Homo sapiens: one gene and its partners. The protein of the gene in region 1 purifies or fractionates together with the protein of each later gene. This does not show direct contact. Each region holds a gene or a part of one and is shown in the gene's direction. Other genes may lie near its edges.

Region 1 (3,500 bases):
GGCAGGTACTGCAATAGCAGGTGCTTGGGATGCTGTCAGCATCTGCTACACACTCCAGTGTCTCCTCCAGTCCTCCATGACCTACAACCCCCAGCTTACAGATGAGAAAACTGAGGCTCATAGGGGCTAATGGCCAGCATCATAAGCTTAGTGAGGACTGAGAGTTGTGTCTGTTTTGTTCACTCTTTATCCCCAACCCCTATAGCAGCACCTGGCACAGAGTAAGCCCTTGATAAATATTCAGTGAAGGAAAGTCATTCAGGGAGTGTGACTTAGTTGAGTCAAGACTTGAACTGGGATATTCTACCCCAAAGCACATGTCCTTCCGCCGCATGGCAAGAACATACCAGTGTCTGCAGACAGCGCAGTGTGTGGCTTGGAGTAGGTGCCTAAAACAGTTGTTTAATTAATTAATTAATTCTTCTATTCTCTACCTTTATGTTCCTTCTTTCCCTCCCTTACTTAGAAATCAGAGAAAGAGAGAGAGAGAAATCAGAGAAAGGCAGGCCCCCATGGGCAGCGGTGGTAGGAACGCCCCCACAGGCGCACACCAGCCTACAGCCCCACCACCACCCATGGGAGCCTTCTGTGAGAGAGAGCCTCTGTTCCACATGGCCCTGGAAAAATGAGGATTTTAACCAAAAATTCACACAGCTGCTACTTCTACAAAGACCTCACCCCAGAAGCCAAGATCCCCTGGTCAAGAGAAGCTGGCCTGATTATGTGGAGGAGAATCGAGGACATTTAATTGAGATCAGAGACTTATTTGGCCCAGGCCTGGATACCCAAGAACCTCGCATAGTCATACTGCAGGGGGCTGCTGGAATTGGGAAGTCAACACTGGCCAGGCAGGTGAAGGAAGCCTGGGGGAGAGGCCAGCTGTATGGGGACCGCTTCCAGCATGTCTTCTACTTCAGCTGCAGAGAGCTGGCCCAGTCCAAGGTGGTGAGTCTCGCTGAGCTCATCGGAAAAGATGGGACAGCCACTCCGGCTCCCATTAGACAGATCCTGTCTAGGCCAGAGCGGCTGCTCTTCATCCTCGATGGTGTAGATGAGCCAGGATGGGTCTTGCAGGAGCCGAGTTCTGAGCTCTGTCTGCACTGGAGCCAGCCACAGCCGGCGGATGCACTGCTGGGCAGTTTGCTGGGGAAAACTATACTTCCCGAGGCATCCTTCCTGATCACGGCTCGGACCACAGCTCTGCAGAACCTCATTCCTTCTTTGGAGCAGGCACGTTGGGTAGAGGTCCTGGGGTTCTCTGAGTCCAGCAGGAAGGAATATTTCTACAGATATTTCACAGATGAAAGGCAAGCAATTAGAGCCTTTAGGTTGGTCAAATCAAACAAAGAGCTCTGGGCCCTGTGTCTTGTGCCCTGGGTGTCCTGGCTGGCCTGCACTTGCCTGATGCAGCAGATGAAGCGGAAGGAAAAACTCACACTGACTTCCAAGACCACCACAACCCTCTGTCTACATTACCTTGCCCAGGCTCTCCAAGCTCAGCCATTGGGACCCCAGCTCAGAGACCTCTGCTCTCTGGCTGCTGAGGGCATCTGGCAAAAAAAGACCCTTTTCAGTCCAGATGACCTCAGGAAGCATGGGTTAGATGGGGCCATCATCTCCACCTTCTTGAAGATGGGTATTCTTCAAGAGCACCCCATCCCTCTGAGCTACAGCTTCATTCACCTCTGTTTCCAAGAGTTCTTTGCAGCAATGTCCTATGTCTTGGAGGATGAGAAGGGGAGAGGTAAACATTCTAATTGCATCATAGATTTGGAAAAGACGCTAGAAGCATATGGAATACATGGCCTGTTTGGGGCATCAACCACACGTTTCCTATTGGGCCTGTTAAGTGATGAGGGGGAGAGAGAGATGGAGAACATCTTTCACTGCCGGCTGTCTCAGGGGAGGAACCTGATGCAGTGGGTCCCGTCCCTGCAGCTGCTGCTGCAGCCACACTCTCTGGAGTCCCTCCACTGCTTGTACGAGACTCGGAACAAAACGTTCCTGACACAAGTGATGGCCCATTTCGAAGAAATGGGCATGTGTGTAGAAACAGACATGGAGCTCTTAGTGTGCACTTTCTGCATTAAATTCAGCCGCCACGTGAAGAAGCTTCAGCTGATTGAGGGCAGGCAGCACAGATCAACATGGAGCCCCACCATGGTAGTCCTGTGAGTACCCAAACCACCCATGTCTGCAGCTCCTCTGTCAGTCCATAAGCCCGAGTGACCTGAGCACCAGAGGCATGCTCACTGAGCCTGGCCGGGGGTGGGGGTGGCTAAAGGATCAGGGTCTCCAGTGACTTCTAACTGCCCAATCTGACCACCATGCTCTGTCTACCTAAGCTCCTCTGCAGTGCCCGGCTGTGGGGCAGGCCCTGCTTGCTTCTGGAGAGGCCACTGGGCCCTGCCGTGTCTGCCACCTCTCCTCCTACCCTTAGAATGACCGTCCATCTTCTCTCCTGGACGTGCTCCCACCTTCCTGCTGACCTTAGCTACCCCCACACTCCCCAAGGATCAGGCAGCCCCCCTACCCCTGCTCCTCTCTCTGGGCATTCATTCTCTCGGAGAAATTGCTCCTCCAGCTGCTTCAGGAACCCTTTCCATGACAACGACATTGGCCCTGAGATCTTCCCCATCAGCTCTCAAAAAGAGTTTCCTATTTTTCCCTGCAAAACTGACTTCATAATTATTTGTGACCGTGGTGCCACCATTGCCCCACGCACTCAACCTGAAACCCACTCTCTGGCTGTGCAAGAATAGCTTCCTCCAACCATTCTCCAGCCCGGCAGTACTGAGAACTTCCCCATCCCGGTTCCCCGACCTCTGTCGTGGTATCGATCACATGCTATTGGTATGTGTCTATGTCCTGCTTTAGATGATTCATTCCATAAGTATTTATTAAGCACTGATTCTATGCCAGGCCCTACAGATCACAGATTAAAAAGCACAATACGTGCCTTAAGGAGCTCAAAAAATAGGGGAGAAGACAAACATTCATTTAATGACAACAGAGTGTGATGTCTACAACAGTAGAGGTATGGACAAGGTACTGTGGTGGCCCAAGGAAGGGAGTGATCACACGAGTGGGTAATAAAGATTCTCAGAGGAAGAAATGTTTGATGTGGGCCTTCATATTTATATTTTTAAAACTTTTTCTCACAATAAAATTCATGTTCATTATAGGAAAAAAAAAAAGATATGTAGGCTGGGTGAAGTAGCTCACACCTGTAATTCCAGTACTTTGGGAGGCTGAAGCAGGAGGATCACTTGAGGCCAGGAGTTCGAGACCAGCCTGGCCAACATGGCAAAACCCCATCTCTACCAAAAAATACAAAAATTATCTGGGCATGGTGGCACACGCCTGTAATCCCAGCTATTAGGGAGACTGAGGCATGAGAATCACTTGAATCTGGGAGACGGAGTTTGCAATGAGCTGAGATCGTGATACTGAACTCCAACCTGGGCAACAGAGCCAGACTCCGTCTCAAAAAACAAACA
Region 2 (3,500 bases), on another chromosome or scaffold:
ATTTAGCCAGTCATTTCAGGAATCCTAATAAAAATACATATTATCTTTTGGAATGAAGGGTCTTATAATTAATAATTTGTAGATTTAAGATATGATCAATCAAGAAAAATATTATTCTGTCATTCCCCATCAAAATAACTTTTTGGCCAGGCACAGTGTCTCATGCCTTTAATCCTAGCACTTTGGGAGGCCAAGGTGGGCAGATTGCTTGAGCTCAGGAGTTCGAGACCAGCCTGGGCAACATGGTGAAACCCATCTCTACAAAAGATAAAAAAATTAGCCCAGCATGGTGACGTAAGCTTGTAGTCCCAATTACTTGGGAAGCTGAGGTGGGAGGATCACCTAAGCCCAGGGAGGTCGAGGCTGCAATGAGCTGTGATCGCACCACTGCACTCCAGCCAGGGTGACAGAGTGAAACCCTGTCTCAAAAACAACAAAAAAAAACTATTTTAAAAAATTTTTAGGTAACAGGATTTTTTTCATTCATTCAATTACTTTTTTTTTGTTTGAGACAGAGTCTCGCTTTGTCACCCAGGCTGGAGTGCAGTGGTGTGATCTCGGCTCACTGCAACCTCCACTTCCCAGGTTCAAGCAATTCTCCTGCCTCAAGCTCCTGAGTAGCTGGGATTATAGGTGTGCGCCACTGTGCCCAGCTAATTTTTTGTATTTTTAGTAGAGACAGGGTTTCACCATGTTGGCCAGGCTGGTCTCGAACTCCTGACCTCAAGTGATCCATCTGCCTCAGCATCCCAAAGTGCTAGGATTACAGGTGTGAGCCACCTCACCTGGCCCATTCAACTACTTTATATTAAACACCTCCATGGGTTATGCACTGTGCTAGGCCCTAGGGATACAAGGGTGTACACAATGAATATGATTCTTTTCCTCTTGGCTCTCACTATATGATGGAGGGAGACAGACAGAAAATTATAATAGTCAGTTATAATTGTACATGATATCTACTCTGATAGGATAGATAAAGGGCCAGAGAAGGCTTCTCTGAGAATAGTAGAATCTATGTGAAGACTTGAAGGATGAAAAGGAGTTGCTTAAGTTATGGGTGAGGGAGTCATAGATGTATAAGCTGGACGTGAGAGCATGGAATGTTCAGGAACTCAGACATCAACATAGCTAGTGTAGAGTGTGAAGCAGGAAAGTAACCAGAAATGAAGATAGAGAAGTATTTAGTGTTAAGATGGTAGAGATGTACTTTTTTGTACCCTATATAAATGTATAAGGATGTGTTTTTGTGTTTTTAATGCTGTTCTTACAATGACTTAAGTAATCGCTGTAAGTTAATAGATAACCTGATTAAGAAAACTCTATGGCTAGGCGCGGTGGCTCACGCCTGTAATCCCAGCACTTTGGGAGGCCAAAGCGGATGGATCATGAGGTCAGGAGTTCGAGACCAGCCTGAACATGGTGAAACCCCGTCTCTACTAAAAATACAAAAATTAGCCGGGCGTGGTGGCGCGCGCATGTAATCCCAGGTACTCAGGAGGCTGACGCAGGAGAATCGCTTGAATCTGGGAGGCGGAAGTTGTAGTGAGCCGAGATCGTGCCACTGCACTCCAGGCTGGGCGACAGAGCAAGAGTCTGTCTCAAAAAAAAAAAAAAAAGAAAGAAAGAAAGAAAGAAAACTCTACTGGATCTAGTTATTAGTTTATAATTTCTTAACTTATTCTTCTAGTATGAAGAGTTAATGGAAGCCTTTAAAACTTTGCATAAAGAATATGAGCAGCTCAAGATATCTGGATTTTCTACAGCAGAAATAAGAAAGGTAAAGGAAAGAAAACATAGTAACAATTTTTTTGGGATTTGAATAATATTGGATTTAGCATTTTATTAATTCAGTATGAGTCTTAAGACTATATGGAGACTAGTGATAGCAAATGGCACATTTTACTTTGTGGGGGGACCTTTGGTAGTTCCTTACTGATGAAATTGATGAGACTGGGGTAAATTCACGATGAGTAGTTACTTACAGTACGGAAGAAGAGTGATATATGTCCATCTACTATTCCTCCATTATGTCCTGTAAGTAAACCAGAATAATGACAAGAACCTAGAGTCTATATTTTAATTTATTCATTATTACTAAAGCTTTCTCTCTCTTTTTTTTTTTTTTTTTTGAGACAGGGTCTCACTCTGTCATTCAGACTGGAGTACAGTGGTGTGATCACAGCTCACTACAGTCTCGACATCCCAGGTTCAAATGATCCACATGCCTGAGCCTCCTGAGTAGCTGGGACTACAGGCATGCGCCACCATGCCCAGCTAATTTTTGTATTTTTTTGTAGAGACGGGATTTTGCCATGTTGCCCGGGTTGGTCTTGACCTCCTGGGCTCAAGCTATCCTCCCACCTTGGCCTCTCAAAGTACTGGGATTATAGGCATGAGCCACTGCTGCACCTAGCCTTTATTTCTTGTTTAATCATATTTTCTAAATTTTCTACAAAGCATATGTTCAAGAATACTTTAGTAGGCCAGGCATGGTAGCTCATGCCTGTAATCCAAACACTTTGGGTGGCCGAGGCTGGAGGATCATTTGAGCCCAAGAGTTTGAGACCAGCCTGGGCATGATGGCAAGATTCTGTCTCCAGAAAAAAAAAAAAAAACAAATTAGCCAGGCATGGTGGTGCACGCCTGTAGTCCCAGCTACTCAGGAAGCTGAGGCAGGAGGATCACTTGAGCCTGGGAGTTCAAGGCTGCAGTGAGCTATGATCATACCACTGCACTCTAGCTGGGTGACAGAGTGAGAACTTGTCTCAAAAAAAAAGAAAAGAAAAAATAATTCACTCATAATCTCGTTCTCCAGAGACAACTATGGTTGACATTTTGATAAATATATTTAAATCTTTTTCTTGGTATTCTGTAGATAAATGTTGTAATCCGCCTCTTTCAATTAATGTCATTTCATGACTTTTTCTCATGTCATTAAACATTCTTCTGCATGATTTTTAATGACTTTCATTGTATTATGTGGTGATTTATTTAACAATCCTCATACATTTTGGTCATTTCCAAATTGTAGATGTAACTTGCATTAATGAGAATCTTTACAGAGGATGTCTTTTCATGAATGTTTTATTCGGACAAATCATCAGATATAAAATTACTGGGCTAGAAGGGATGAACATTTATTTTAAGATTTTTTTTTTTGAGACGGAGTCTCACTCTGTCACCCAGGGTGGAGTGCAATGGCGCAATCTTGGCTCACTGCAACCTCCACCTCCTGGGTTCAAGCGATTCTCCTGCCTCAGCCTCCCAAGTAGCTGGGATTACAGGCACTTGCCACCACGCCTGGCTAGTTTTGTATTTTTAGTAGAGACAAAATTTCAACATGTTGGCCAGGCTATATTTTAAGACTTTTGATATTGTTCTTCAGTACAGTGCTATCGGTAATGAGTAAGAGTGCCCATTTTTCCAAATTCTGTCAATACTGACTACCGTGTATATTTTACCTTTACTATTACTGCGATATTTAAGCTATTAGTTTT
Region 3 (3,500 bases), on another chromosome or scaffold:
TGTGCCTTTTTCAAAAGGTGGGGAGCAGGATAGAGTCAATGTTTAGGGCAGTTTCTTAGAATATATTTCTGAGAGAAAAATTATTAGGTCTCAGTCAGCATTAGGCTTCCATGATTTTTACCAAATCTATGACTTAAGTATTAAAAGAGTTTTAGCTTCTCATAAGTTGTGTTTTGAAGCAATAGATTGAATTTGGTAAATTCTGAAGGAGTTCTACCTGACTTACATTTCATTCTAATGGAGGTGCTTTGCGTATACTTCGTAAAAATTTCTCTGTGAGTTGGCTCTTCTAATGCCAAAGTAATAGGAAGATCTTTTGCTATACAGTGTCTTGTTTCTGTAGTCTGTGTTCCAGGTAAAAATATTCATCTTTATTCTTGTCAGTAATGAAACTCATTTTTAAAAATGAGTCGCCTAGGCACGGTGGCTCACGCCTGTAATCCCAGCACTTTGGGAGGCCGAGGTTGGCAGATCACCTGAGGTCGGGAGTTCCAGATCAGCCTGACCAACATGGAGAAACCCCGTCTCTACTAAAAATACAAAATTAGCTGGGCGTGGTGGTACATACCTGTGATCCCAGTTACTCAGGAGGCTGAGGCAGCAGAATCACTTGAACCTGGGAGGTGTAAGTTGCGGTCAGCCAAGATCGCGCCATTGCACTCCAGCTTGGGCAACAAGAGTGAAACTCCATCTCAAAAAAAAAAAAAAAATTAGTCATTGAAGGTTTTTTCCTCTTCAGTATTTGATTCAAAAGTATTAAATAGTTAAGAAACTGGCTTATACATATTGGTTTGTAAACATTCATAGATCTCCCATCTATTTTTATATGTGGCTAGGTATCCAAAATGTTGAAAGATTATGACTGGATTAATGCAGAGAGACACCTCTTTGGCCAACCCAATAGTGCCTATGATTTCAAAACTAACAACCCTAAAGAAGCTGGTCAGAGACTTCAGAAGTTGCAAGAAATGAAGGAGAAACTAGGAAGAAATGTCAATATGAGAGCTATGAATGTATTGACAGAAGCTGAAGAGCGAGTAAGTCAATTTCTTATGAATATCTGGCCGCATTAGAACATGACTAGCATTGACAGCTCTGTATGACCTCTGATGCAATTATTAGAGTTAACCTTTTGCAGATGTCCTTGATACTTTTCTTTCTGCTTTCCTTTTTCTCTTTTCGTCATTTTTTTCTTATTACTCTTATGCATCATTAGTTGTTTTTACATTCTATTACACCTGGAATGACTTTTTCACTGGCTTTTGTTCTTTGTCAAACATAATTCCTCACATTTCTATCATTTCATTTCTTTCACTTGCATTGAAAAGCCTTGAATAGGATATACTTCTGTCATCCTCTTGACTCTACTGTATACTGAAACTATATAAGTAATGACTAAAGCCATTATACACATAAATACTGTTTCACTGATCTGTAAATTCTGCAGCCTCTTCTCAGTTTTAATGCTCTCAATTACTCAATAATGTTATTCTTCCCTAACCTGACAAAACTTTGAGTCTGGGAAGGGAGTTTACTGTCATCTAGTGATGAACTTGGGAGGACCTATCACTAGAAAAACCCAGTGGGGGAAGCATTCCCTACTCTTAAGATAGCCATAAGAAATGGCTATCTTAGTAATTTTATATTAATGCCCCTATTAATGCCCCATACCTTCCTGAATGCTGGAAAATTCTGTTTGAATTTGCAAATCAGAGTAAAATTCATGAGAAATCTGCGACACTGATAATAGCACAGTTACTTTGAAGAAATTTTACCATAATTTTTTTTAACTGTTTTTGGCATGAATATGCACAAAGAGTCTATATTATATTAGATACCAAACAGATGAATCATGCAGGTATTGTGATCTCTCTAGAAAATGCTCCTGCTGGTTTTCATTTCTACATTAAAGCTTTGCAATATGTGATATATTTGTAGAAGGAAAACTTTGGTCTGAATTTGATCTGCATAACATGAAACTTGTTCACTTTTACTCGTTTACTTCTATTAGATGAGACCTGAGTCTAATATTTTTTTCAAAAGAATTTATCAACTCCCATCTCTTTACCAGAGGAGAAGCCTATATTGTTGATCAGCAGATGGCCTTTTTTTTTCTTGTGTTTTGTATCTATCTACATAAGCAATTACATGGATTTTCATGAAAAAATAAGATAAAAATGTAGAGAGAAGGTTAGGGGAGCGTGGCTGTAAAGAAGAGGGACAGCAAGGAAAACAGCAGGACTGACTAGAATTGTTAAAGGTGAATGTGAAGCCTCCTTGAAATGTAGGGCTTTGAGGAGAAATGAATTAGGAAGAGTTTTAGGAAGTCCCATTGCTGTTCATGGTATGATTATCCCTCTACAGCCTTGCTTGAAGGAAGACTACTCTAAAGTGGTGATATTTGAGCTGAAATTTCAGGCAACCGTTATGTCAGAGAAAGAGCATTCCAGGAAGGGAGAATAGTGCAGGGGCCATAAGACAATAGTGAGTTTATTATGTTCAAAGGAGCTGTAAAAGACCATATGGCCAGAACCTGGGGAGGAGTTTAATGCCATAAAGTCAAGGGATAAATAAGGTCCAATTCCCTTTATCCTGATGCATACAGGGCTTAAAACCTGGTTGATTGGTGCAGCAAGCCATCATGGCACATGTATACCTATGTAACAAACCTGCACATTCTGCACATGTATCCCAAAACTTAAAATTAAAAAAAAGTAAGGTCCAATTTATGTGGTTCCTATATATCATGGTGAAGGATCAAAATTTTGTTCATGTCACTGCTAAGGCTGACCTTAAGAGGAGAGCTTTCAGGGCTCCTTTTACTTAAGTTTATATGTAACACTTTTTTTTTTTTTTTTTGCCTTGGCTGCTAAGGAGATAAGGGAATATTAGTGGAGTCAAAATATTTTAAGGACTTTGTCTTATAAATTCTTAGTTCTAGTAATTTAGTTATATACATATGGATGATTTTATTCCTAATTTTGTTAAGAGTGTGTATATGAGTGTGTATATACACACACATCATACAGTATATGTATAGTATATGAGTATATATAATTCTTAGTGCATTATATCTTTTTGGTAAATAGCAATGTATGTATTGTATATAAAAATAATGAAAACTGTTTATTTCTGACCAAATTCCAGAATATAGAAGAGATTTTATATTTTCCCAGTTAACCATGTTTTTTATCTCATAGTACAATGACTTGATGAAGAAGAAGAGAATTGTAGAAAATGACAAATCCAAAATTCTTACAACTATAGAAGACCTTGACCAGAAGAAAAACCAAGCCCTAAATATTGCATGGCAAAAGGTACTTTTTATGTTTGTTTTATATGAGGTTGCAAGGATGAAAAAATATCATCAGTGGAGTTATACTCTATAAGAAATTTGAAATAGCTGATCTATGTTTGAATGAGGCACATATTCACACCTTAATTAAAACCTCTGACTTTTAAATGCATTTTTTTCTTTTTGAACTTGACTACTACCAGAT

Evidence for each region.
Region 2: the proteins of NLRP1 (region 1) and IFT81 purify together in Homo sapiens (affinity purification with mass spectrometry, with the first as the bait; one study listed by BioGRID). This does not show direct contact.
Region 3: the proteins of NLRP1 (region 1) and SMC2 fractionate together in Homo sapiens (co-fractionation; one large-scale study listed by BioGRID). This does not show direct contact.

Annotation. Positions count from the first base shown.
Region 1 is NC_000017.11:5,557,010-5,560,509, reverse strand, and holds part of NLRP1 (NACHT, LRR and PYD domains-containing protein 1), read left to right. Parts: intron 1-466; coding exon 467-2,171; intron 2,172-3,500.
Region 2 is NC_000012.12:110,130,857-110,134,356, forward strand, and holds part of IFT81 (intraflagellar transport protein 81 homolog), read left to right. Parts: intron 1-1,690; coding exon 1,691-1,780; intron 1,781-3,500. UniProt on the Homo sapiens protein: Component of the intraflagellar transport (IFT) complex B: together with IFT74, forms a tubulin-binding module that specifically mediates transport of tubulin within the cilium. Binds tubulin via its CH (calponin-homology)-like region.
Region 3 is NC_000009.12:104,128,809-104,132,308, forward strand, and holds part of SMC2 (structural maintenance of chromosomes protein 2), read left to right. Parts: intron 1-836; coding exon 837-1,037; intron 1,038-3,200; coding exon 3,201-3,317; intron 3,318-3,500. UniProt on the Homo sapiens protein: Central component of the condensin complex, a complex required for conversion of interphase chromatin into mitotic-like condense chromosomes.